Linked DNA regions of Homo sapiens. The protein of the gene in region 1 interacts with the protein of each later gene in a pairwise test. Each region holds a gene or a part of one and is shown in the gene's direction. Other genes may lie near its edges.

Region 1 (7,027 bases):
TCCCTTTTTTTAAGATTTGATCACTACTTTGCTCCTGGGAGTCTTGGCTTTCCTCTTGCTGTAAAACATGCTCTCTGCATGGGGATGTCACGAGGGGTCTGGAGCAGCGTCTGGTCTCCCAGGTCCATCCCAGTGCTCGTGGGTGGTGTCTTGCCTGGTGTGAACTTAGACTTCACACTCATCCTCAGCCTTCGGTGGCCCACGCCTTTACTAGCCTGATTCTGTCTGCGGCTTCAAGATCCTCCCGTCATATGGTCTTGAGTGAGATGTGGGATGTCTGTGGCAGAAGCAGCTGCCCTGTTTTCATGGGTGAACAGAATTAATGCCAGAATGTCCTTGCAGTATGTAAATATGGAGCTTGTCAGTCAACAAGGAAATAGACCTGTCTGCTTGGGTTAATACAACTTTTGGAGTCACTAAGAAGCAGGCAGTCAATGAAGGAAGCAGAAGGAACTGTGCAAGCCTCTCGGGACAGAGTCCTGTTGCAGTGCGCCAGAGAAACCCCACAGAGTGGCAGGACTGCAGTGAGAAGGAGGTGGCCAGTCATTCATGGAAGCTGCTGGATGCCAAGAGAAAGGCCAGCATGGGGGTGGGGGTCATAGGCACCTCAGATAGCTGGGAGAGTGAACAGTGAGCCGCACTTGGGAGGTGAGAGGAGACCCCTGCCATGAAGAAGAGTGGGTGGTTTTCGTTTTGTAGGTGTAGAAGTGTTCGTAACTCACTCAGGGAAGGCATGGTAGAGCCATAGCATGCAGGATGGAGTCTCCCTTGGTCCCCACACTGGTGTGATTGACGGACCCGAGGCCACCCGCCATTCTAGCGTGTGCAGCTATGGTTGTCCTGCATGGCTGCAATTGATGTGTTTTGAGATTAAATGACAAGATGGGATCTTAAAGGTGATTTAAATTATTTGGAGCTAGAACTAGACTGGAACTCCTTCATAGACTGTGTGTTTTATCTCAGCTTCCCAGTGCCTCACGTAGCACATGGAAAACAGTGGTTACTCAACACATTCTTGTCGGCTGGGTTCAAAAGGCTGAACGACATCAAAACAAGTGTAACTCCTCTTGTAGTCATGGACTTCAGATCAGAAATTTGATATTTATTGTTTTCCCTTTATTTTTAGTATTCAATATTCAAAAGATAATTCAGAAGACAGCAGTTTACCTTATTCAAACATTGCCTCATGCAGAACCACCAGAGATGAAGATGTTTATTTATTTTTTTTAAGTTGGAAGTTACCAGTTTATGTAAACTATAATACACCTCTGACACCTGTCTGTACATGCATTTAGTAAAGGCTTATTAAATTAATCTGTAAATATATTATACAGTGGTAAGCATAGTCAATTTTATACCTTACAAACTAAGATTGTTTAAAATCCAACAATTTAAAAATAGATTTCAAGTGGATGCTAGATACTTTTTTTCTTTCTTTCTTTTTTCTCTTTCTTTCTTTCTTTCCTTCTTTTCTTTTTTTTTTCCCAGGGTCTCATTCTGTTGCTCAGGCTGGAGTGCAGTAGCTTTTCACAGGTGCCATCATAGCTCACTAAAGCCTCAAACCCCTGGGCTCAAGCAGTCCTCCTGCCTCAGTCTCCCAGGTAGCTAGGACTGTAGGCACACATCACCATATCCAACTGATATAAATTTTTTTTTTTTTTTAGAGACCGGGTCTTACACTGTGGTCCAGGCTGGAGTATAGTGGCAGCACTACAGCTCACTGCAGCCTCGAACTCTTGGGCTCAAGAGATCCTCTCTCTTTAGGGACTCCAAGGCTTGATCCATTATTCTAGTTTATAAAACAGCAACTTTCCTTGACATGATGGCCCTCTCCGTTTTATCAGAATTTCTGTTTAAAACAACCCGTTTAGCTAGACAAATGAAGAGTGTTGGGGGTGAGCGGTTTTTGTGTGTAGATACTCCCATCCGTAGGAAAATAAAATGGTGCGGGGTATTCTCTGAGCACATTTCCAGGTGTGAGAGTCCCGTGCCTTTGAATGGAGGATCTTTGATTATAGGCATCACATGTCTGTAGAACATCAGGGCCTTCTGCTGACACCTGGAGCCCGTGTTGGGGATCTGTGCGTTCTTCCCAAAGTGGGCACGACTCCCAGCTGGCTTTTTGCTTCTTGACCTGGCCAGGCTGCATCCTGGACTGTGCAGCTGTGTGTTCACATGGGATTGGAGTCCAAACACAATAAGAAGAGTTATATCCGCTGCGGAAGCAGCAGCTTATCTGGAAGGAGGGACGAGGGCAGCGATGGAAGCTCATGATGTCATATGCCAAACCACATTACATGTTGGGTTTGCTATGCAGAGTGGATTGTTCACATAATATGTTTCTAATTTTTCATGCTTGATTTTTGCCTGTATGTTTGTACTCTGACATGTTTGTATTCATCCACCCGTCAATTCATTTGTTCATCCATTCCACAAGTATTCACAAAGCCCCTGGTCCTGTGTGTGTTCCCTGCTGGTGAGGTCTCAGCGACAGGTAGTGGGCACCCTTCCCAATGCTTACGGTTGGTAGAAGACGGGGCAATTGCATGAAAACACTGCACTTTTATAATGTATTTTTTAAAAGAGCCCACATAGACCAGTTTTCCTAATTGTCTCTGGAAAGCTCTGGTTGATTATTGATAAGTAATTGAATATCCCTTGCGGATCCCCGGTGACATCTAAAGATACAGGGACTGACTTACCGAAGCTGCTTTTGCATGTGTTGAAGGGCTGCATGCAGGAAGGGCTTGGGGACGTTCACAGATTTCTCCTTAGGAAATGGCTATGTTAGAGGAGCCTCCTGCAGCAGGGTTGATAGGGAGAAGCACTTGGGGTTTCAAAGGGGGAGGAGAAAATGGGCCCATTGGGGTCAGATCAAAGTAGGTAGTCAATAAAAGGTGCATTGAAAAGGATGCTTAAATAGACTTCTTTTGCTAATCTGACCTCTTCAGGCTTTACCTGTAGGGATCTGCCAGGCTCCTGGAACTCCAAGGCCTGAGCCAGCAAGCCAAGGGAGGCTGTCTGTCATGGCAGCCCCTCCTTTGATCGAAATCTTTCTGGTTAAAAAAAAAAAAAAAATTAGCTGGGTGCGGTGATGCACGCCTGTAATACCAGCTACTTGGGAGGCTGAGACAGGAGAATTGCTTGAACCTAGGATGTGGAGGCTGAAGTGAGCCAAGATAGGGCCAGTGCACTCCAGCCTGGGTGATAGAGTGACACTGTCTCAAGAAAAAAAAAAAAAAAAAAAAAAAAGCTTCCTGGCATGCAGGGTCCTTGCCTCTCTTCTGCCTCATTTCATTTACCCTCCTCCTTCCTTTTTTTGTCCTGTCACCACCCTTCTCCCCTTCTCTTTACTCTTTCTGTTTCCTTTTCCCTTTATTTTCCTCCAGCTTTGATACTTTCCCCACTCATACTTTGTTTTACAGTTTTTGAATCTGAAAATTTAAAAATAGATCACACTGATGAGCTTGTGAACTTTTAAAATTAGTATGAATTGTGAGTAGTAGAGTGCATTGTTGCTCCCTGGCCCTCTGAACCTTTATTCTTACATCCTTTTTATTTCTTTTTCTTTTTTTTCTTTGGAGACATGGTCTGTGTCACCATGAGGCTGTTTCCTTGAGGCTGGAGAGCAGTGATGCTATCATGGCTCACTGCAGCCTCGACCTCCTGGGCTCAAGATCCTCCCACCTCAGCCTCCTGAGTAGTAGGGACTACAAATGCATGCCACCACACCCGGCAAATTTTTTGTGTTTTTTGTAGAGATGGGGTTTCTCCATGTTGCCCAGGCTGGTCTTGAACTACAGGGCTCAAACGATATGTCTGCCTCGGTCTCCCAAAGTACTGGGACTACAGGCATGAGCCTCTGTACCCGACCTATTCTTACATCTGAGTCAAAGCTGGGCTAGCGAGAGACTCAGAGATCAAAGCCTTCCCTGGGCCATCCCCAGACCTCCGAGCTGCACCTGGCACCTGCCTCACCCATTGCAGTTCCCTTGGCCTGGAGTCAAGCCTGTACCCTAAGATCCAGCTTTTTCAAATACCCTATTCAGGGCCGAAGGGGTAATGACATCATGGAATGATTTAGCTTGGTGAGGAATAAGAACTCCAGGAAACTGTGATTTGGAATTTGATTCAGTGAAATAAAAAGGAGGGGTTGCGCCTTATGTTTGGGCATCTCCCTGCAGGCTGTTGCCTGATGCTTTCAGCATTCCTGTGTACCAGCTAAGGAGCAGGAATTATTGATAACCTGTCAGGAGGGATGTGGAGTTCACAGAGAGTAAATGGATTGTACACAATTAGGTTAATAAGTCCTTGTAGAACCAAGATGTCCTACTTTTATTTGAAGAAATCATTCAGAAATGGGCTCTGATACCCTGATACATTTTTTAGGAGTCATTGCCCCCTGTCTTGCATAGTAAAGGCAGGCTTCCATGCAGTAAACTTTCACTGGGCTGTCCGTTTCTCCACTGCCTGCGAGGCATACCCAAGTCCATGAACAAGGCATCCAGGCCCTCATTGCCTTGGCTGTTGACTGGGTCTTCCATCTTCCTGGGCTCTCTGCCTACCCTACTCTGTCTCTCATGTCTCTGGCTTTGCCTACTCCACCCCTTGACCTGACCTGCCATATCACCTGGCTGACCTGTTCCTAGCACAGATAGCATCTCCTCTGGGATGCCTGCCTGCTCTCTCAGGGGCTCCTCCTCTGCGTGCCCATCATACCTGTGCACCTCCAGCACGCACTGAGTAAGGGGCTTGGTAGTCTGTTTGGTATATATCTCTTTTCCTCACTAGATAACAAGTCCCTTGAGGGGAGGGGCCTGCATTTTATTCATCTTTGTATCTTCTGCACTTTTCATGACTTTAGACACATAGTTCCAGCTCAACCAATGTTTATTCAGTGAATGAATGAGCAATCAGGTATTTATGGGATGTAAAAAATGCAAGTGGCTCATGACTGTAATCCTAGCACTTTAGGAGGCCAAGGCAGGCGGATCACCTGAGGTCAGGAGTTTGAGACCAGTCTGGCCAACATGGTGAAACTCCGTCTCTACTAAAAAAAAAAAAATACACATACACACACACACATACACACACACACAAATTAGCTGAGTGTGGTGGCGTGTGCCCGTAATCCCAGCAACCCAGGAGGCTGAGGCAGGAGAATCACTGAAACCCGGGAGGTGGAGGCTGCAGTGAGCTGAGATCATGCCACTGCACTCCAGCCTGGGTGACACAGCAAGACTCTGTCTCAAAAAAAAAAAAAAAATGCAAGTTATAGGAGATTTCTAATACAGGACAATAGGTATACTTTTAAACATGTTGTAATAGAAGGGAAGCTCTGAGCTTGCTTATTAGCTCATGGACTTTTTATTCTGATGCTCAGGGCTTGTGCAGTATGTAACTGTGTGGAACTCCTTCAGGGGCCTGCTTTCACACAGTGCATCCTGCTGTGCTCCTAGGTAGCAGCAGTTGCTCATTTTATGCTCTGCCCTGTTGGTTGGAGTAGAAATGCTCTCTGCTCTTTGTAGAACTCTAGTGTCCTCTTAGAAGATGAGGAACAAGGTAGAAGAGGGATCCACCACTCTCAGAAAGAATTCTGTAGAATTAGGAGCTGAACCACAGGGCCAAGTGCCTCCTCCCAGGTGGACCCACTGAGCAGATAGCAGCTGCTACTGTTCCTGCTGGGAGCTGGTATCACTGATAATGATATTCATCATATCACTGATGATGACATTCACCATGATGACATTCATAACCTCAGTCGTACTTTGAGCAAATGTGGAGCCCTACTTATTTTCAGAGTTTATTCTCTTAGATTTATTTTTTTATTTTTTTAGACGGAGTCTCGCTTTGTCGCCCAGGCTGGAGTGCAGTGGCACGATCTCAGCTCACTGCAAGCTCTACCTCTTGGTTCACGCCATTCTCCTGCCCCAGCCTCCCAAGTAGCTGGGACTACAGGTGCCCGCCACCACACCCGGATAATTTTTTTTTTGTATTTTTAGTAGAGATGGGGTTTCACCGTGTTAGCCAGGATGGTCTCAATCTCCTGACCTCGTGTTTCACCCGCCTCAGCCTCCCAAAGTGCTGGGATTACAGGCGTGAGCCACCGCACCTGGCCAGATTTTTTTTGTTTTTGTTTTTTTCTGTCCTGGTCCTGTAGAATCAGAGGAAGTGGAAAACACATATCAGGTATATGAGCACCGTGATCACGATTATTACCTCAGAGGAAAACAGGTGTACCCCTTTCACCAGCTGCCAACATAAATGGAGCTCTGCAGACATTAACAGAGGCTGTAGACTGTCTCCCTTCCCTAGCAGGGCTGGTGCTTGTCCTGACCCACACAGACGGCCTTTCAAGTTAGACTGGGAGTTCATTTTCTGTAAGTCAGACGGCTATTTGAGAAAGCTCAGTGGACCCTCTTTTTCATAAATATGCGTGGGCTTCAGTTTTTCCATCCATAGAATGAGGAAGTTGTCATAGATAATCTGGGGATTTGTTTCCAGCTTTTACAATTCCGCAATTTATAGTTCTCTGTCCTTTCATCGTTCTTATTTCAAATTCCCAAATTATTATTCTTATGTTTGTGGGCATGGAATGGGCAGTGAGCCTCTTGTCCCACAGCTAAATCACACCCTTTATTGGAAAAACATATATGTTGGAAAAACAGCTCTCAATTGTGATGAAATAAATGACAGCAACTTTCAAGGCCAATAACTGAACAATTACAGGAAAGCATTGAATCTTGTGCCAGCATGGCTGCTCCAACTCGAGATGGCTGCGGTACAAAGGATATTTATACGTTGGGCTTCAGAATAATAATTCAAGTGCTCAAGAGCCTCATCTTGTGATGTTATCACAAGAATGTCCAGACAATGTTTTCTTTAACTCCAGGAAGAGTGATTTAGAAGGACGGATCTTGCCGCATGTGTCCAGCTGCATATTTATTGCTCTTGGAAGAGAATTATTCTGTAAACACAGAAATATCCAAGAATGAATTCTTGAAAGATGATCTTTTCCTTGCTTACA
Region 2 (7,027 bases), on another chromosome or scaffold:
GCACGTGGGACTGTGTTACCTATCGGATCTGGCATCGGTCAGGGTCCCAAAAGAAAACAAATAGCAAAGGAATTAATTACAAAAGTGCGAGTGGGGACTAGGGAAATCAAAAAAGAGTGTCAGAATTTGGGGCTCACAGCATTCTGGAGTCAAAGGTACAAGGGGCTGGAGAATTAATAGAAATCCTGAAAGGGGAGAGAATTGTGTAGAGCAGATCTCTTTGCAAGAAGTTGCTGGGTGCAGTGGCTCGCACCTGTAATCTCAGCACTTTGGGAGGCTGAGGTAGAAGGATTGCTTGAGCCCAGGAGTGCAAGACCAGCCTGGACAAGATGGCAAGACCTCATCTCTACAAAAAATTAGCCGAGCATGGTAGCATGGACTACTACAGTAGTCCCAGCTACTCCGGGGGCTGAGGTGGGAGGATCTCTTGATCCCAGGAGGCTGAGGCTGCAGTGATCTATGATTGTGCCTTTGCACTCCAGCCTGGGCAACAGAGTGAGACCCCACCATTAAGGAAAGAAAGAAAAGAGAAAAGAAAGAAGCAGTGATTTTGGTCAAAGGACACAGTCAGCCCAAGGTGACCTCTCAAAGACGGGTCCAGCAGAATAAATGCCCCGAATTCACTGTTGTCTCTTCTCCAACCTCCTACCAGTGTTCCCCATTGGCTAAATGCAATCACAATCTAGAAGGCTAAAGAGGACCCCATGTAGAACAGCTTCCCAGAGCAGAGAGCAGGCTGGAGCTGGTAGGTGGTGAATTCCATAGGCAGTGGATCCAGATGGCAAAGGGAGGATCTCTTAGCCTAGGCCCTTCAGACACTGTGGAGCCTCTTGCATATTAGCTCCTCAGGGGCCCACTCAAACTCAAAAAGTTTGAATACTGGAGGGTGGGGTGGAGAAAGTATTCACTCTGAAATACAAAAAAGAAAACTGCAAAGAAAAACTAATGCATAAATACATGTCTATAAAGAAAAGCATTATTTCATCTTCATTGATGATCACATTTAGTATCATAAAAGTGTTATTACTTGGAAAACAATTTGTAAGTTAGATTTTCTCTATATGGAAACATTCCTGAGTATACATGATGATTGCTGGGAAGGAACAGCCATCACAAATTAAATGCCAAAAATTACGTTGGAATAATTACAATTGAAACATATTCAAATTCCCAATTTTTGCAGCTAGATATTTTTAGAGTAATTATTTACACATATTATTTAGTTAAATATATATTTAATATTATATTTGACTATAATGTGGTATGGAAAAATCAAAAGTAAGTTTTCCTAGGAACTATGAAGGTTTTTGAGCATATATAGAGATATTTATATTTAATTTGTTAGATGAAGTGAGATCTTGAAATTTTTTCTACGATAATTATCACATTTACAATTTAGGAAAATTAGCCTAGTAAGAACTGACTTTTTAATACAGGTGAGAGAAACATGTCATAGAAACTAGTTATAAAGCTATTATAGTCAACCAAATGGGACAAAATAAAGTCTTGAACTTAGGTAGGAATGGAATGTAGGAGACAGCCATATGCAGAACAGTAAGGGATAAATTCAAAGGACGCAGGAACTGATTGGAGATGGGGTGAAAAAGAAGGACAAGTCATTATAAGCTTCCAATATGGTAGGTTGTTATGAAAGTCAGGAAGGGAAGCCTATTCAGAGAGAAAAATGATGAATTGAGCTTCAGAATGATTATTCATTTATTCTTTTTGTAAGTCTATGAAGTGAAAGAAATTTTACTAAGCTTGGGCTATACAGATTAATAAGATATTGTCCTAGCTCTGGAAATATCTAAACCAAATAACTAAAATACAATATTGAATTTAAAATGCTTTTGGATGGGACAAAGGAAGGCAGAACAAAATTTGTTACAAGATATCTGAATTTGCCGCAAAGAATCATTCCATGCAAAACATCTCTTGATATGGAAGTGCCTATAAGCAGAGACCTATTTGGGTCTCTCATCTTCCTCAAGACTGGACTGAAGATATAAAGAATCTTATACCCAAGTTCCTCCCCTATTTTCAGTATGCCAGGTCTACTTTTTCTAATTACATCAACATCAATATAAGATTGTTGAATATCAGCTGGATTCTGTCTGTCTCTCAGAGTATTCCATCTAACTTATTTGACACTGGCTCCTGCTACTAAAAAGTAAGGTAAATACATAATACTGGGGACAAATTGACCAAGAGGCTGAACAAAATGGTCAGGATGACCATGAAGCACAAGCTTTGTCCAGCAGACTTCAATAATCCAGGAACCACTGAGTCACTGTTGAAATCAGAGGGTAAGGGTGCACACTCAGCTGCTGTGAATGGGAATTTCTGTAGAAACACTTTACATAAAAGTGTTCTTTATATAAAACAGAGGATCTTCACATTCTTATTCAAAAACAAAGCCACAAATGCTTTCAGACAATACTTTGTTCCTTTGATAATAAATACATCAATCTATCAAGAATTTCTTGAGAGCCATCATTGTTTATTGTGTAGGCAAGCAATACATAGAAGTTAGTAGCACACGTAGATCTACATACATCCATTATCTTTGACATCTGGAGCTGTTTGCAGTCTCAGAATTTGTGTCAGAATTCTTAAGGACAGGTTTTAAGCAGTGCATGATCTGAGAACCTCAATACTACTCTCACTCCCAACTACTCCTGACCCCTGTCATCCCTGTTTATTAGCTCCCAACTGTTCAGCAGATCAAAAGGTGGCTTCACAAGGAAGAACCTGTGGCAGGCAATGCAACAGCCTCCCAGATTCCTCTTCCTTTGGTAGAGCCACAGTATGTCTCTCTTCTCCAGTGAAAACTTACTTGTGTGGCTGCTCTAAGGAGCAAGACAGTTAGCGGGCTATCAGCTGGAAGGGCCTGATTTGGCTGCCCATGCTAAATGCTAATAATTGATAAGATTTCTTTATTGGTTTCCTTTCACCTTCATCTTATTGTGCAAGGTAATGGAGATTTTATACCATCCATAACAAACCTAAATTGTCTTGTAGTTATATAATTATATAAATATGTAATTTAAAACACATATATGACCTAATAAAAATATTACATAACTTTCTGTCTCAGTGACTGTAACCAGATTGTAAATTTATAATGAATATGTCAATGGACACTGGCCAATATGTCACTGTCAAACCTGTTGGCATCTTATGCAACTTACCAACAAAATGGCTCAGAAAAAGTTCAACTGGCATACAAAACAAACCTATAAAATGACAAGATACAATCAATAAACCTACAGCAAATAGTCTAACACTTAGAAGGAGTCATGTTATTAGGGCTCAGCCACACTTGGTTATCTTCATATCATCTCGCGTTGATATTTCTTTGCTCTCTACAACAGGTGCTGGATGGTTCCCCCATTGAAGTCACCCTAGCAAAACCAGTGGACAAGGACAGTTATGTTAGGTATACCCGAGGCACAGGTGGAAGGGGCACCATGCTGCAAGGAGAGTATACCTACTCTTTGGGCCAAGTTTATGATCCCACCACAACCTACCTTGGAGCTCCTGTCTTCTATGCCCCCCAGACCTATGCAGCAATTCCCAGTCTTCATTTCCCAGCCACCAAAGGACATCTCAGCAACAGAGCCATTATCCGAGCCCCTTCTGTTAGAGGTAACACCAGTCAGATCTTGCTTTAGAGTAATCCCAAGATTTCAAATGACTCAAATTGCAGTAGCCTTAGATACATTGGATGGGTCCACTTGGAGAAAAGCACTGAAAAATTGTTTATTAAAAATCAACTATTATATCAATAGTTTTCCTTTAATAGGAATCTTTTTCACATTACAACTGGTTATTGAAAAAACGTCATCAGAACATTGTGCAAATGAGCCTAGTGCACAGATTCAAACTTTGCATGGGCCCATAAAATTTGCACAAACTAAAACCTAGTTCTATAATTGTTAGCTTCTTCTATATCACTTGTCCACCACTGTGTAGTCATCTGTGGCTCATTACAACACTTCTGGAATAGACTAGTATAGTCCAGTGGAAACCAATTACCTCAAATAGCAAAACCCTTTCAAGGCATGTGTGTATTTGATGGTGACTCAGTGGCATTGTCTTAATATGTAAATCACAAATTATTATAAATATAATCTAACAGACATATGAGATGTTCTCATCTGACCTCCTCCAGGAAATATGTTATACTTTCTTAGAAGCCAAATAATTAAGGACATTACTATATTTCTTTAATACATGGAGAACTGAACAACAAATAGAAAAAAAACCCTCAATCAGACTGCTAATAAAACAATAAATATTTCACATTTGAATCCTGTAAGAATTCTAAATGTTTGAGCAGTTTTCCAAGCTCCATTTCTTCAAGAAAGCTAGAAGATAAAGAAAGCCTTTATTCTATTTCCAAGAAACTAGCTTGTCCCTGTCTTTTTGGCTCCTTCAGATGAGTTTTTCTAGGATGTGGCTAATGCCAACTGAATCCCAGTTCTATCCTCCAAATACGACATGAATCTGGGCAATTCGATAAACTGTGCATTTAAGTCTATTCTTGGGTTTGACTTAGAAGCAAAAAGGCACATCTAGATTACTGTGGAAACAATTATCTTACTATGTTTTACTACTTTTCAGTATAACTAAATTGATCATATTAGGAGCTCTAGTCTTCAACAGCCTTAAAAGTTTCATACTCATAATTACTTGCCCCAAAATTGTAATGCAAATGAAATAATCAAGATTTCCTTTAAGGTAACTTGTCTATGTGATAATAAATTATATCATTGCAACATTATGCATTTAGAATATAAAATCACCTCATTAACCAATCCATACATTAAATACAAATTGTCAACCAGTTATGATGTCGAAAAAAAACAAACTCCACTATAAGGGAAAAAATGCCTATCTTATAACAAGAAAGGAATCAATGAATGATATTCATGGATGAAGGGTAATCAATTTAATTTTTTATCTCTATGCCACCAATATAAAATCAAAGTAGTAACATGGCAAAACAAAAATCAAAAGGAATCTATGCATGAAACTCAATGGAAATTTAAGCCTCACATTGACCGAACATCAGAGAGCATGGTGAACCTAAAAGCATGCTTTCTAAATGTTTGTTTTACAATAAGTCATTGGAAGTGGGATAATTAGGGAAGCCAGAATTTATTTCTGATATACTGATCAGTGACAGTCTCTATGCAAGACTGATTTCAAAATAAGTGGTCGCATTATGTTGGAATGTTCTAATAAATACATTCCCAGTCTTTATTAGTCTGTATAAAATATCAAGGTTACCTAAAGACAAAAATTGCAAATTTTCTATCCCAAAATTTTTAAGTTGTTTGTGTACTTATCAATAGTATTGTATTTATCAATGGCATTGTTTTCTTCTGAAGGTAGTTTTTCAAAAAAGAGAGACACCTATGTTAAACCTTACCTTATGTTGAGTTTCATTACATTAGAATCCTAGAGTCTCCCACCCATCTTCAGGGCAATAATCAACGTGAATTGGGCTAACTTTTCCATTACAGTAAGATTCAGGGTGATTTTCTGGTGGTTTGATTCAGTTTAATGCCTTCTTACGTTCCTAGAAATTTACATGAATGTACCTGTAGGGGCTGCGGGAGTGAGAGGACTGGGCGGCCGTGGCTATTTGGCATACACAGGCCTGGGTCGAGGATACCAGGTCAAAGGAGACAAAAGAGAAGACAAACTCTATGACATTTTACCTGGGATGGAGCTCACCCCAATGAATCCTGTCACATTAAAACCCCAAGGAATTAAACTCGCTCCCCAGGTAGGTAATGTTATTCCAGAAATAGTTTCTTTAAGTTGTGCCAATGAGCATCATTCACTTTTATCAAATGATTTGACTTGATCCCTACTCAAGCTATGGGTTTTTTTCTTTTAATATATAAAGCATCCAATGAATGTCACAGTCTTTGAAGGAATGCTGGGCATCTGGTGCCATTATTCTATTATAGGTCCTTTCTCTTTTTTAAAAAATCATAAAGTCTAACACCTTGAACAATATTCCACTGAAATGCAAAGAATCTGAGAGCTATTAAGAATTATCAACCCATACCCGAAATGAGGCAAAGACCCCATCTCAGAATAAATGCCTATTGTATGTGAGCCAGGTTGGCTGGCAAATGAAGAGTATTATGGCAGTGCCCTGAATAGACCATTTAGGACATCTTTTCTTGGAAATACTGTATCTAAGAGAAAACTCCACCATGATATCTGGGTGAATTATTAACTATGAGATGTCATCAGTCATACCAAATTAACTCTTCCTCCATAGTTATATTTTGGCAGTGGCATTACAGAGAGTTTTTACTGTGTTCATTTAACAGTTCTAAGTTTCCACACTTCAACATTAACCTGTGGTTTTTATTATTGGAAAATTAAAAGCTATAAAAGTTTCAATATGGAAACTGACTCCCGGGGTTAAAAATAAAACAAAACAGAGTCTATGCTAACCCTGAGACTGTTCCCTGTGGGAGTGTGATAGGTGCTGATCTCTCTGAAATACATTTTGGCTGAATAATCAGAGTTACAGTTTGTGTATCTTGAAGGAAACTTCCCTATTCCCATGACAAAGGTGGGCTTATAGCCTCACATTTATGGAAGTAGCCCTTATAATTTCAATCCAGAAGAAAACTGGTTTTCTAAAAGCTCATCTTGGGTAATTTTTTAATGGGATTTCTGGCTTTCTTTTATGCACAAATTAGCTTATCTAAGGTTTCTGCTAGCCCCACCCAGGGAATTTTAAAAAAAATGCCTATCAGACTGCTAAACAGCAATCATTTGTTCACATAAGATTTAGTAAACTTCTCTTATGCACCATGTAGTGCGCTAGGTGCTGGAGATGTAGAAGTGAATATAACAAAATCCTTATCATGAAAAATTAGATGGCAATCCAGTGGGAAAAAACTGACACGTAAACATATAATGAAATCTGGAAGTGATATGATGAAGTTTGTTCAGAAAATATAAAAGCCACTCATCCAGTTTCTCTTAGGTT
Region 3 (6,989 bases), on another chromosome or scaffold:
ATCTTTTTTTTTTTTAATCAAACATTGATTTGACCTTAGTGTAGCTGGTAACGTGAGGTCAATGTGAATTCCAAGGGAAAGCTCACGTCTCTTCCAGGCAGCCCTCTGAGATGGCCAACCTGGTCTCCCCACTTCTACTCTCCACCCCCAACACGCCCCCACATCTTGCATGCAACGACTAGAGTGGCTGTTTAAAGATACAAATCTGATTATGTCACTCCTCTTCGTAAATCCCAACCCATATCATGGTTTCCCATTTCACTCGGGATAAAATACAACCACTTTAACCTGCCCTACATGACCCTACTTGATCTGGCCCCTGGCCTAGCCACTCTTCCCCTTCACCTCCATAGTCTATCCACATTCATTCTTTCAGTTCCTGGAATGGGCAAAGCTTTTTCCCCACTTTGAGGCCTTCCCACATGCTGTTCCTCTGCCTGGAAAATTATCCCCCACTTTCCTCCACACTAACACCTACGCACTCTTCAAATCTCAGCTTAAATCTTATTTATACAGAAAAGTCTTTCCTAGGCCCCTTCTCTCCACTCTAAAATTTGGTCTCCCCTTTTTTATACTCCCTCATAGCAGGTGCTTCTTAACTTTCACAGCAGATACCAGTTTGTGATCATACGTGTAGTTGTGATTGTGTTTAAATTCCAATCCCCCTCACAAATCATAAGCTTCAAGAGAACAAAATAAGTTGATTTTGCTGGCCACACTACAGGCACTCATATATATCTGAAAGAAAGAAAAATACATAAAAAGCCCCTAATCGTATCTCATACATCTTAAAATGTTACCCATCACATCATTCAATCATTATTCAAATGATTAAAATATTAAATCTCAATATTAAAACTCTGATGCAGCCTGCAAATTTAGTAACAATCCCTTTTCCCTGAAGGACATAAAAGCTAATCTGAATCTGCTGCTGCCACAGAAAAATACATGTACAACTTACAACTCTAAGGAAATAAGCTTAAATATTATAGTGCGAGTATTGTCTAGTGTTCAGTTTGCTAATATGTTTATTCACAGTCAACTAATTTATATGCCTTATTTTTTAAGGTATGTAAAACCACTAGGGGCTGGGCACAGTGGCTCACACCTGTAATCCCAACACTTTGGGAGGACTGCTTTAGGCCAGGAGTTTGAGACCAGTTGGGGCAAGATAGTAAGAGCCTGTCATTACAAAAATAAAATAAATCAGCCAGGTGTGGTGGCACATGGTTGTAGTCATTCCTAACTACTGGGGAGGCTGAGGCACAAGGATCACTTGAGCCCAGGAGTCCCAGGCTGCAGTGAACTAGAATCATGCCACTACACTCCAGCCACGGCAACAGAAAGAGACCCTATCTCTCTCTCTTTTTTTTTTTTTTTAATGAAGAGGAAGAAAAGAAAGCCCTAGGAAAAAATGCTTTGCAAAATATTGTTAAGAAGACTAATGTATTGTCAGTACTTGATAAAAATTAATTTAAAAAGTCACAAATTAAAAAGCATTCAAAGTTGACTATCTGTAGTGCTCTGTGATATGATACACACACATCTGGTCAAAAAATATAAATGATATTGCAAATAATTTTTGGATCACAAAGGCTAATAAAACCAACCTTTATATATACTACTTTACATTCCACAACACATACGCACTGTATCACTGAACTCTATGGAGCAGACAGAGCAGGCCATTTACAGAAAAGAAAACCGAGGTTTGGTGTGATTCAATGTCCTCCCCAAGGTCACACAACTTCTAACTGCTAGAGTCAGAACTACCATAGGGGAGGGGTGGCTGCTTCCACATATCAATTTCTTAACCAAAAGAGAACTTCATCATAAATGCCGAATCTCGATAATTAGCGTAGATCTGTGCTCCTATCACCGAAATTTCATCTCATCAGAGAACCACCACCAGCAAAAAAGCTGTTTTAAAGTTAAAACTTAAACTGCTATCAATTTGGGAAATGGCTAAACCATGATATACTGAAACTATGGAACATGGTGCAGCAGTTGTTAAAAAATGACTTGAAGCATTACATGCTAACATTGAAAGTTACGGTGCAACAGTCCTTGTTAAAGCAGTCAAAAATGATGTTAAGTGCACACACGTAAAAGTACTCCAAAAGATCTAGAAGGATAAACACCACACACATAATAGTCGGCATCCCTGAAGACAGAGGTTGATAGTCAAAGACAAAATGCCATCTCTGTGATATGCTGTTTTTACAAAGAAAATGTACTACTCTGCTAATTTAGAATTAATTTTTAAATTTTTAATTAACCTGCGGGTTGAACAAGGTCAATTTCCTGCTCTAAAAAACTATGCGTCTATGAAGGAAATAGGAGCCCTCTCTAAATAAGAAGCCAAAATGCCTAAAAACCGTTCCAGCCTGTGAAAACAATAAACTGTAAATATCAGAAAACGTTCCTTGAAGAAGGCAATAGCTCAGAAATCTTTTTTCGGTATCTGGTCTCCTTTGTTGCAATAAGACAGCCCGTAAGCAATCTAGCAACCAGAACAGTTCAGTTCGGAGCAGGCTCCCGGGGAGATTTAGTTGTTAGAGTTCGGCAAGAAAGGTTTCACAAAGGAGCTGAGTTCTGGGGGAAATGAGAGGTGATGTGGCGGAGAGATGGATCCGGACGGGAAAATGTCTGGGAGGGGGTATACGGAGTTCATGAGAAGCCGGGGACAGTGAGAAAACTGCAGTCGAGTCCTGGAAGGGGTGAGAACGCCTGCGGAGGCGGGAGTCAGAGGGAAGTGGACAGCGCCGGCAGCCGGTTTACCTGGGTGAGAATCCGGCCCTTGTTGTGGTCAAACAATGGAGGCGTCCGGCGGCAGCAGCCTTCTGCGCTGGGTGCGCGAGGGGTTCCTCATCACCTGAGCGGGATGCTCGCCTCCTCTGCCGGACGCAGGGCGCCCTGAAAAACACACAGCACCCCATGCAGCCGGCTCCTCCGCAGCCGCCCGGCTCCCCGGTCCCCTGGCGCGGCCATGACCGCCTCTCCCGGGACCCGCCTGGAAGGGCTCCAAGACGCGGCTCCACGGGCGACGAGGGCGGCAGCGCTCCCCCTTCCCTCGGCTCCAACAACAATGGAGCCTGGCTCGGGAGTCCGGCTCCCGAGGGGCCTCGCCCGGCCTCGCCCTGCCCGCTGCCCAGCCCTCGCTCGCACCGGCCGCCATCTGCGCCCCCCGGCCCCGCTCCCCCGCACTGCGGGCCCGCGGCCGACCGCCCGAGGCCCGAGGGGCGGCTTCTCAGCCCGGGACCCGCCAGGCTGCGCGGAGCCGCTCTGACCTTCCCCGCCATCCCGAGGCCCATCCTCCGGGATGGGTTGTTTTTCTTTTCTTTAAGCCACTCCACCTCCTTCCCACCCCCAGCCCGCTCCCTGGCCCCCGGCCCCCGCCTCCCTCCGGGAAAGAAAGAAAGACTGCAGCCCGGCCGCCGAGAACTCACTCCAAGTGAGGGGAGTCAGCGCCCCAGGCCGCGGGCGCCGCGCACCCACCTCCCTCTCCTCAGGGACACCTCACAGGTGCGCCTCCGAGCCGCGCGCGCGCGCGCTCCGCACACCCAGACGCCTCCGGGGGACAGCGCGCGTGCGCACGCACGAGGCCGGGGAAGCCCCGGGGGAGCGGGGGCCGCACGCATGCGCGGCCACCCGGCCCGCGCCCCCACCGCCCGCCTCCGCCCCCGCCCCCCAGCCCCGGCCCGGTCGGGCCCGGCCATCCCCCACCCCAGCGCCCGGCGCGCGCGCTCCCGCTCGCCTCCCTCGCTCCTCCCCGCGCCCCCCCCTCCCTCGGGCCGCGTTACCCAGGGCAACCGCAGTGCGGCCGCACCTGAGCTGTGCGCCTGCGTCCCGCGGGCCCGACCCTCCCTTCCCCTCGGCCTTCGCCCCTGCCCCGCCACAGCCGGGCGGAAGGGGGCGTAGCCCCGCCTCGCCAAGTGAATATCGGCCCGCCGCCCCCGCCCAGCCCGGCAGACACAGGCCCGCCGCCGCGCCGGCGCCTAGCCCGCCGGGTCAGCGCGGCCAGGCCTCGCCGCCGGCCCCGCTCCCAGGGTGCACCGCGGCTAGCGCTGGGGTGGGAGCGGGCGAGATGCGCCGGGCGGGCGGTGCCCACTGACCTCCCTCGGCGGCCCGGCCCGGGCAGCGCCCGAGCCCAGGCAGCCCCGCCCGCCGCGCCCCGCCCAGCCCATGGGCCACGGGCCCCCACCGCCGCCCGCCGGGAGGACCGAGCCTAAGAGGGCAGCCGCCTGAAGGAACGCGACGGCGGCGCCCGCAGGTGAGGCGGGGCCCGGGGTGTGTCGAGTCCGGCCCCGCTCACCTGGCAGCGCCGGCGGGGGCGGAGGGGCCGGGCAGGGGCGGAGGGGCCGGGCAGGGACGGGAGTTCGTGGCGAAGACTTTAAAAACCCTCCCCGCCGGGAGACGGGGGACGGGGTCCTCCTGCCCCACCTCCGGGGCTTGGGAGCCACGTTAGCTCCCCCAGGGGCAGGGGTGGCCCCGGGCGAAGGCAACTCGGGAGACGGCGGAGTCGGGGAAAGAGGGTCCCTGAGGCTCGGCGACCCCCGCGCCCGCCCCCGCGGGGTCTGCCGGCCCTTTCTGGGGAGGGGGCTCCCCGGCCCGGGCTCCAGTCCAGGGTGCGGACCGGCCGCGGCGCGCGCCCACCCCAGTGCCAAGGGGGAGGAGAGGCCGGTCCCGGGGCGCTCCTGTCTGCCCCGGGGTGGGATCGCAGGGCGAGGGATCCGCATTGCAGGTGCACCAGGAGCGCCCCGGGGCCTAGCCCGGCTTTGTCTGGGATGCTGTGGGGAGGAGGCCGTCTGAATCCACATCGCCTTTTTAAATGCTTGTTACCACCCGGGGAACCTTAGAGACCCTCCCTGACAAGTTGTATCGCCTCCCGTCCTGGTAGCCTTTCCGTAAGTACACTACCTTGCCAGCCCCTTCCTGAAGCTTTGATGCGGCTTTAGTTTACTCTGAGTAACGATTTGCCTGTGATTCGTGAAACGGAGCAGAATGCACAAACGCAGCAGAGCTCCAGGCTTGGCTACTGGGCTGCCGTCTGCTACGGCGAGTGAGTTTCTCTAACTTAGGTTTTCATGCTGACCTGTATTGTTTCATTTCAAGTTTTGGTATTTAGCAGTACGATCTAGTCCACTAAGGAAAATTAGGCTGCCAGAGAGAAAATATAACCGCGCTCTGTAGCTTAGGTTGCAGTAGTCGGTTTTATAACAAAATGCAAGCTACCACGCTGTAATACTTTAACATATTACGCAGTTCCAGAAACCTGTAAGAGTATTAAAACTAGGATTGCCATTTTAAAACTTTTACGTTTGAAATTTATTTAAAGAGCATTGGTATTGATAAAACGACTTTTCTTTTTTTTTTTTTTTGCTCATCAAGAATTCCCATGCATTTTCTCGCTATTGCATTGTAAGGAAAAAGATGCTAACGTTTAAAGTGGCTTTTACCTCCAAAGATGTTTTGAAATGTATGTAATTCTTTTGGCTAACTGTTCATCTTATGTGAAATATGCTTGGAAGAAGGCTTTAAAACTCGTGATTATATATACGGGTATGCGTACATATCCATACACACCACTGAAAAATCTTAAAATAGTTTTGTTACTCCTCTGCGTATTATAATTACTCAGTAAATTTAGTTTAGGTACATTTAAGATCTAAAGTACAGGACAATTATTTGTGTGAGATTTTTACTGTGACACATTTTAAATACATCGGTCTAACAAATAGGGTTTTTTTGAAATTAGATATTTTTATTAACTCTTTAAAAAACGAATCATTCATCTTGGGTTTATAACTCTTTCATCTGCCATGTTGGATAAATTGCAAAATTGGATAAATTGATCTCAACTTATCCAATTATCTTTGGATAAATTGATCTCAACATAATTACCTAATTGGTAGGATGCCTTTGCAACGATACTAACGTTAATAAAATGTTGATGCTTTTAAAAAATACTTATGTTAAAAAAGCATTTTCTCGTATTTCTGGCAAGAAAAGTCATGGAACTTTTTTCCTTCTATCTGGAACAAGGTCAGCCATAAATAGTTTCTAATACATAGTGGGCACACATTTGGTAACTAAGATTAATTATATCTACTGAATTTACTGAATTCCATGTCCTTCAAGGGCAGTGACTAGGTGACTTTGTATCTTCACACACCAATGTTGCAGTAAATGTTTGAGTCAGATTGAAGTTTCATCCCGGCTAGGTAGGTGCTAACTTAATGACACCAGTTTCCACATCTTCAGCTTTGATGTTTCAACCTGCAGAAGGATTTGGGCACGGAAGTGGCTGTGTCCTAATTGTCTTCAAATATTTGAAGGTCTGTCATGCAGCAAGGGATTTCATTTATTTTGAGTAATTATTGAGTACAGAAAAACAGATTTCACTTCTATATGAAGGCAAAAGTTGTTTATGGTGAGAACTAGCGGTGGAAAGAAGGGGCTGCTCCTTCCCTAGGGGCTTTTGGGATCAGCTGGTTCCCCACTTGGCGTGAATGGCTATTAGGAGGTATCACAGAGGTATAGGAGGGTCTTTCTGAGAGGGACTCCTGGGTATTCCGATGGCAACTATATTCGAGGACTTCTGTACTTCCCTTTTAGCACTGTGGCTTTTGTTTTTTGTTTTCTTATGCTGGCTTCTAGAGTTGTGGACGTAGCAACATCCGCAGACACCTACATGAACCCTAGGAAGATTTTTTAGTAGATTAAAGACCCACCTGCTATCGAAGATGATTCTTAGTCGTGCTTTGCATTTGTATGGCACATTACAGGGAATAAAGCACTCTCGAATTCAATGTGTTTTAAAAGACTCTTTTTAATTATACATGATTTGTATTTCTTTCTTTAACTTTATTTTCTACAATAAACATTGAATCAAGAGGAAAATTACCCTTTTCTAGGAAGGCAAGCAGAAAAGACTTTTTTTAAAGCTGTTTTTAAAAAATGGGATGGTGCCAGTCATCCTTTGGAGA
Region 4 (7,027 bases), on another chromosome or scaffold:
ATCCCAGCTTCTTGGGAGGCCGAGGCATGAGAATTGCTTGCGCCGGGGAGGCAGAGGTTGCACTGAGCCGAGAACGTGCCACTGCACTCCAGCCTGGGCAACCCAACAAGACTCTGTCTCAAAAAAAAAAAAAAAAAAAAGAATTTTTATATTTATGAATGGTAGGTAAGTGGTAAAAGTGGTTGAAATCTTCTATTATTGAATGATTGACATTTAGGGGCTGACTTGCTAATGCATGGTGGTTCTTTTCACATCTCAGGATGGGATCTTAAACCCTCACGCTGCCTCTTGCACCTGTGCTGCCTGCTGCGACGACATGACCTTAGTAAGTGGCCAGCGTGTCTGGAACAGGATGACTTGGTGGGGCTGGGGGCGGCTGAGTGGGTCCCACAGCCCTTGGCCTCTCGGCTGTTTCCCTCCTGCCCTCTGCCTTGGAGAGAGACACTGTCCTCACTTCTCCTGGGTTGCTCTGTTCCCTCCTCCCTGATACGTCACAGTGAATCCTGATGTCTCGATGGGGAACACGTGGTTGGCCCCCAAGATGTTGCTCAAAGAACATTTGTGGAAACCTTAAATAATGAAAAGCGGTTATAATGTCACCGCCTTAACTCTAAAACTAAACATACACGCTTTTCCTTGTATGCATGCCATTTTATATTCCTCATTTTGTAACATGTCAGAAAAATGCTACTGTAAACTTATTCATGTGTAGAGCTTTTAACGCCTTTTTGACGTATTTCCTTATTCTAAATTCTTAACTGCTTCACAAAGACCCAAAATAATTTTTCTTTCTTTTTTTTTTTCTGAGACGAAGTCTCATTCTGTCGCCCACACTGGGGTGCAGTGGCGCGGTCTCGGCTCACTGCAACCTCCGCCTCCTGGATTCAAGCACTTCTCCTGCCTCAGCTTCCCGCGTAGCTGGGATTACAGGCATGTGCCACAATGCCCAGCTAATTTTTGTATTTTTAGTAGAGATGGGGTTTTGCCATGTTGGTCAGGCTGGTCTCAAACTCCTGACCACATGTGATCCGCCCGCCTCAGCCTCCCAAAGTGTTGAGATTACAGGCGTGAGCCACTGCACCTCAAAAAAAAAAAAAAAGAGCATGGAGAGACCTACCGTGTTCTTGGGGTGAAACACTAAACATCCTAGAATTGTGTAGTTGATATATAGATTTCATGTGATTCTAGTGGAAAAAACAATTTTGTGAACGTAAAATAATTTTGAAGTTGATTGGGAAAAGCCAGTCGGTGAGACTCTTAGAGACGCTGCAGGAGTAAAGGAGCCGGGAGGAGACGTCGGTCCCATTGGCAGTTGAGCCTGCAGGTAGATCATTTGCAGGGGCTCCAACACTGAAGTACTTAGATGTCAGTCTAGGAAATCATGTACAGGGTTTGTACGTGGAAGATACTAAAGAAAATGCTGAAGAGAGAGACCAGGGAAGATTGAAATACGTCAAAAGACGTCCTGCGCCCGTGGATTAGAAGACTCAGTAAAGATGCGACTTTTTCCCAAGTTGATTCGTAGGTTTAACACAATGACTATCAAAATCCCAGCAGGATTCTTTTTAGATGCAGACAAGCTGATTCTAAAATTTGCATAGAAAGGTAAAGGAAATAAAAAAGCCAAAACAGTTTTGAAACAAAAAAGCCAAAACAGTTTTGAAATAAAAGTTTAAAATGGGTGGAATCACATTGCGGGGTCTTAAGACTTACGGGCTCGTGACAGTAATCAAGATAGTGTGGCACTGGCAGAGGGAGAGACCCCACGATCTGGGTCAGACTAGAGTGTCATAGTAGACTCCAGCAAATGGCCTTGGAGTGACAGGACGTTCATCAGCAGAGACAAAGGATGACCTAAACTTCACACTTGGTACAAAAATGAATTCAAAATGGGTCATCGATCTAAAGTGAAAGGTGAAACTATAACATTTTTAGGAGAAAACACATTGGAAAATCTTCCTGACCTGGAGTTAGAACTAGGATTTCTTGGATTGGACTTCATCAAATTTTAGAACTTTTGGCTTCCGCTTGGGGAGTGGTGGTGTGATGAGCTCAGTGGACCAACTCTCCAGAGAAATAACTAGTGAAAATTGTGAAAAAATAACCCCTTAAGGTCTCCAGAAATTGTCCTAGGGGAGTACAGCAAATAAACATCCAAGAAAATGTAGTAAGTCTTGGAAAGGGCAGTGAGGATTGTGACGTTTGAGCTACGACCAGCTCCTTCCCTCCCTTTCTGCCCCCAGCTCCCTATGGTGGAGGCTCCATTGTGGGTGGTTGTGACCAAGAAAACGGTTCCCACTCCTTGCAGTTCCCGGTCAAGGGATATGGTATCTCACTGGGAGGGGCAGGCCACCAGCATTTCTCAACCCCTTCAGCTCTAAGTTGCAGTAAATTCCTGGGAAGTGTGACTGAAAATCTCTTCAGTCATCCCCACTCAGAGGGCAGAGGCTTTACCCAGGCATGGGAGGCCAAGCATACGGAGCCCCAATTTCCATCAACCCACATTGCCCATAGGGTGGGGTGTCCATGCAGTGAGAGGCTGCTGCCCCCCACACAGAACCCGGCTAATGCAACAGAATTCCCTCTGATAGACTCAGGCACTGTTCCTGCCTCTAGGTCTATAGTAGGGGCTCAGACATTCAGCCCAAAAGAGAGAGAGGCCGTAAGAACAGAGAGCTCCAAAGCCCCTCCCAAAGGAACTGACTTGATTTGAAACAGTATGGGGATGTTCAAGCCTAAAAGTGCCCTGGAAAAGAATGGACATTTTGATGGTAAGCAGTTAAGAGGAGGCCAGCAGTTCCATTAGAGCAAGAAACTAAACTGTAGGTCAGCAGGTTTACCAGAGAGGCGAGGAAAGCCACAGCGAAGAACCCATCTGGGAAACCGACCTTCAAGATCGAACCTCTCAGTAAAGAAGCCCTAATTTAATTGGCTCAGACAGTGGAGCAGTGTGTGCCCCAGGGCATTGTTGAAAGTAATGGAGCAGGCAGCTGGCAGTTAGTTGATTCTGACACTTGACTACACCAACAGCTTAACAGAGATCAGGAAGAGCGACAGCCAAAACTCCCACCACCAAAGGTGATTGCACCCCACCCAGGGCCGAGCCCTCAGAGGAGCAGCAGCCGAGGCCGCCCCAGGAGAACAGGCTCAGTAAGATAGTCCAGCTCCGTACCTGAGTAATAAACAAGCTGACAGCAGCAAGGATCCCAGAGAAAGGAGAACTGCTTTCCACTGTTGCTACAATGTATCACCTGCGGTGTCTGATTCTTAACAAAAGATGATAAGACATGCAAGGAGCCTTGGACCATACACAGGAAGAAAGCAGGCAACAGAAATTGCCTGGAGAGGTCCGGATGTTGGGGTTAACAGGAAAAAGCTTTAAAATGGCTATCCTCAGTATGTTCAGAGGACTGAAGGAAACCACAGCTAGAGATTGCATGGAAGGTCTGAAGACACTGTCTCCTCACTGGAGAATGTCAATGAAGAGATATAAATTATTTAAAAAAAAAAGTCGGCCGGGCGTGGTGGCTCACGCCTGTAATCCTAGCACTTTGGGAGGCCGAGGTGGGCAGATCACGAGGTCAGGAGAACGAGACCATCCTGGCTACCATGGTGAAACCCCGTCTCTACTAAAAATACAAAACACTAGCCAGGCTTGGTGGCGGGCGCCTGTAGTCCCAGCTACTCGGGAGGTTGAGGCAGGAGAATGGCATGAACCCGGGAGGCAGAGCTTGCAGTGAGCCCAGATTGTGCCACTGCACTCCAGCCTGGGCAACAGAGCGAGACTCTGTCTCAAAAAAAAAAAAAAAAAGAAAGAAAGAAAATTAGCCGGGTGTGGTGACACATGCCTGTAATCCCAGCTACTCAGGAGACTAACGCAGAATCACTTGAACCTGGGAGGCGGAGGTTGCAGTAAGCCAAGATGGCGCCACTGCACTCCAGCGTGGGCAGCTAGAGTGAAACTCCGTCTCAAAAAAGAAAAAGAGGTGGGATCTTTAGGGGCGCTTACCATCTTAATGTGGTCTCACCATGTGACTCACACACCCCGCGGTGCCCCCACTTAAGGAGGAGTTGCAAGCGCAGCATAGCTTTTGCACACATGAAGGTGGTGGCCTCTCTCCTTTCTCCCCCAGAGTGGCCCAGTCAGGCTTTTTGTGCCTTACAAAAGGCGCAAGAAGGAGAATGAACTGCCCACAACTCCCGTGAAGAAGGACTCCCCCAAGAACATCACATTGCTTCCAGCCACCGCGGCTACCACCTGTGAGTTTGAGAAAACACAGCTCTAGTTTACTGAGGGGACCTGAGTGCATTGCCTTCTCTCGTCACCACTCCCACGGCCACTGCGGGATTCTCACTTCTAAAGCACATTGCGTGGCCAGAGGGATTCCAACGCCATCACACTCCTTTGCAGTGCGTCCCCCGGGTGGGAAGGGGTGTCCCAGTGCCCAGCTCGGTCTTGCTTCCCTGGGACCCGGACACTGTTGGCCTTGTCCTGGGCTGTTTCCTAGTATGAGTGAGCATGGCTGAGTGCCCAGCACACGCTCAGGGGACGTTTCCTGACAAGGGCGTCCTTGGTGAGGGATTCTCAGTGCGCTGGACGAGGGCTGCGGAGAGCTCTGTGGGTCTTTCTCTGTGGCCGGGCTGGAGGGCGGCGTCAGGATCCCGGCTCGCTGCAGCCTCGGCCTCCCAGGCTCAGGCACTGCTCTCACCTCAGCCTCCCAAGTAGCTGGGACCACAGGCACGTGCCACCATGCCCAGCTAATGTTTTTATTTTTTTGTACAGACAGGATTTAAATGGGGAGAGGTAGCAATAGGAGAAAATGTCTTTGTAATAGGCTTTTGTTAACTAAGTCTGGGTTTTTGCATTTATAGAGTAAGGTCTTTCTAAAACACCCTGTCAGCTCCTTCCTGAGGCCCTGGGTGGTGGGTGCAGGAAGAGTCCCACAGCAGCAGAGTCTCAAGATCTGTCGCCAGGATTTTTTTTTGAGCTGGAGAGGCAGCCTTGCTGTGGGACACAGGGCAGCCTTGCTGTGGGACACGGCTGCTTTTTACCTTCAGCTTGGATTAAAGATTTTTTCTTAATTCGAACCACGAAGTACTTAAAAATCACTGAAAGTTTTATTTTATGTTTGTTTTCTGGCTGGGCAGCACATTTCCATGGTTCACAGTTTAAACAGCGAACAATTGGTAGTGGCAAGTTGCCATCCTGGCCATCCTGGTTTTCTCCTGTGAGGTCTTCTCCAAGGTCTGGGATTTCCCCCGTGTCCTTCACATGGGAGGGTACAGTTACCACTGCCCGCCCTTCAGCCCAGGCCCCCACAAGGATTGGCGCCCGTGGGTGGCACGGGACCTGTGTGCCGTGGGCGCCACTGCCTGGCCGCGTGAAATGTGCTTCTGCCTTTCCAGTCACCGTGACCCCCTCGGGACAGATCACGACCTCGGGGGCACTGACCTTTGACCGAGCGTCCACGGTAGAGGCCACTGCTGTCATATCAGAGAGTCCGGCCCAGGGCGACGTCTTCGCAGGGGCCACAGGTGAGCTGCTCCAGTGCCTGCCTGACGCGTCCTCAGCATATCCCTGTCTGTGACATCACATCCCCGACGCCACATTGGGCTGCATAGGCTGCTGGGTGCCTCGAGAGGGGCCTTGAACCAGGCGTTTGTTGGTGGGGACAGCGTGTGAGCCACGTCAGGTGGGCGGTGCAGTGTGGATGGGGTTGGCGTGTGGCAGTGGGTTACTTGTGACAGATGCCAGAACTGGCAAAGCTGAAAATACTCTCTGTCTGCCGGCTCCTGCTTTTGACTGCAGTTGTGCAACAGAAATGCAGCCTAGCTGGTTGTGTGCTGGAGAATATTCTAGAAGCCACACTGAGGAAAATAGAGTTAGAACTGATTTTTTTTTTTTTTTGAGGTGGAGTCTCGCTCCATCCCCCAGGCTGGAGGGCAGTGGCATGATCTCGGCTCATTGCAAGCTCCGCCTCCCGGGTTCACACCGTTCTCCTGCCTCAGCCTCCCAAGTAGCTGGGACTACAGCGCCTGCCACCATGCCCGGCTAATTTTTTTTTGGTATTTTTAGTAGAGACAGCGTTTCACCATGTTAGCCAGGATGGTCTCTATCTCCTGACCTCGTGATGCGCCCATCTTGGCCTCCCAAAGTGCTGGGATTACAGGCGTGAGCCACCGCGCCCGGCCTGATTTTTATAATCTATTTTATTTCACCTGATATAGCCCCAATCCTATTATGTCAACGATTCAGGATCACCACATTTCAGGGGCTCAGTAGCCACGTGTGGCCATAAGCTACTATGTGTACTGAATGGCGCAGCCATACAGCGTGATATTTAGAGTCTGCTGTGCGGACAACCATCCCGAGCCTCCCTGTCCTTTTTCTCCCCAACAGTCCAAGAGGCCAGCGTGCAGCCCCCATGCAGGGCCAGCCACCCTGAGCCTCACTACCCCGGCTATCAGGACAGCTGCCAGATCGCACCGTTTCCAGAAGCTGCGTTGCCAACGTCACATCCCAAAATAGGTAGGTTTGAAAGAATTCACACATGTACAGGTTATTGTCCTCAGAATTGCTTCCAATGAAAGAATTCCTAAGTGAAATGGGATTCATTTTGGTTTGGTTTGTTGTTTTTGTTGATGCATTAGATCAGTGGCTGGTAAAGTGTGGCCCACTGCCTATGTTTGTAAATAAAGTTTTACTGACACACAGCCACGTCCATTCATGTGTGTGCTGTGGAAGTTGCTTTTGGTACAGCAGCAGGGCACGCCCCTAGAAACCAGTTGGCCTGTGAAGCCTGAAGTTCTTTCTGGTGAGTTTGCTGTTGTCCTCTTGAGGGTAGACACTCCCCAGTGGCAGGTCTTGGTCTCTCCAGAGCTGGCATAGACATTCGGTATCTGGTGAAAGAAAGAAAAACCAAGGCCTAAATGTGGCCTAAATCTTTAAAATGACGATACACTGTAAATGCATTCTAACTTTGATTTTTCGTTTAACTGCACTTCTATTTTTTTGAGACTGAGTCTC

What was found.
Region 2: the proteins of FHL2 (region 1) and A1CF interact in binary tests that used the Homo sapiens proteins (3 or more experiments, as listed by UniProt).
Region 3: the proteins of FHL2 (region 1) and CCDC92 interact in binary tests that used the Homo sapiens proteins (3 or more experiments, as listed by UniProt).
Region 4: the proteins of FHL2 (region 1) and DEAF1 interact in binary tests that used the Homo sapiens proteins (3 or more experiments, as listed by UniProt).

What each region holds. Positions count from the first base shown.
Region 1 is NC_000002.12:105,389,038-105,396,064, reverse strand, and holds part of FHL2 (four and a half LIM domains protein 2), read left to right. Parts: intron 1-5,837; exon of another isoform or gene 5,838-5,958; intron 5,959-7,027. UniProt on the Homo sapiens protein: May function as a molecular transmitter linking various signaling pathways to transcriptional regulation. Negatively regulates the transcriptional repressor E4F1 and may function in cell growth.
Region 2 is NC_000010.11:50,812,627-50,819,653, reverse strand, and holds part of A1CF (APOBEC1 complementation factor), read left to right. Parts: intron 1-3,374; coding exon 3,375-3,648; intron 3,649-5,591; coding exon of another isoform or gene 5,592-5,615; coding exon 5,616-5,797; intron 5,798-7,027. UniProt on the Homo sapiens protein: Essential component of the apolipoprotein B mRNA editing enzyme complex which is responsible for the postranscriptional editing of a CAA codon for Gln to a UAA codon for stop in APOB mRNA.
Region 3 is NC_000012.12:123,969,813-123,976,801, reverse strand, and holds the start of CCDC92 (coiled-coil domain-containing protein 92), read left to right. Parts: upstream 1-3,970; 5' UTR 3,971-4,273; exon of another isoform or gene 4,274-5,062; intron 5,063-5,382; exon of another isoform or gene 5,383-6,989.
Region 4 is NC_000011.10:678,196-685,222, reverse strand, and holds part of DEAF1 (deformed epidermal autoregulatory factor 1 homolog), read left to right. Parts: intron 1-259; coding exon 260-325; intron 326-4,133; coding exon 4,134-4,260; intron 4,261-5,406; coding exon 5,407-5,535; intron 5,536-6,400; coding exon 6,401-6,529; intron 6,530-7,027. UniProt on the Homo sapiens protein: Transcription factor that binds to sequence with multiple copies of 5'-TTC[CG]G-3' present in its own promoter and that of the HNRPA2B1 gene. Down-regulates transcription of these genes.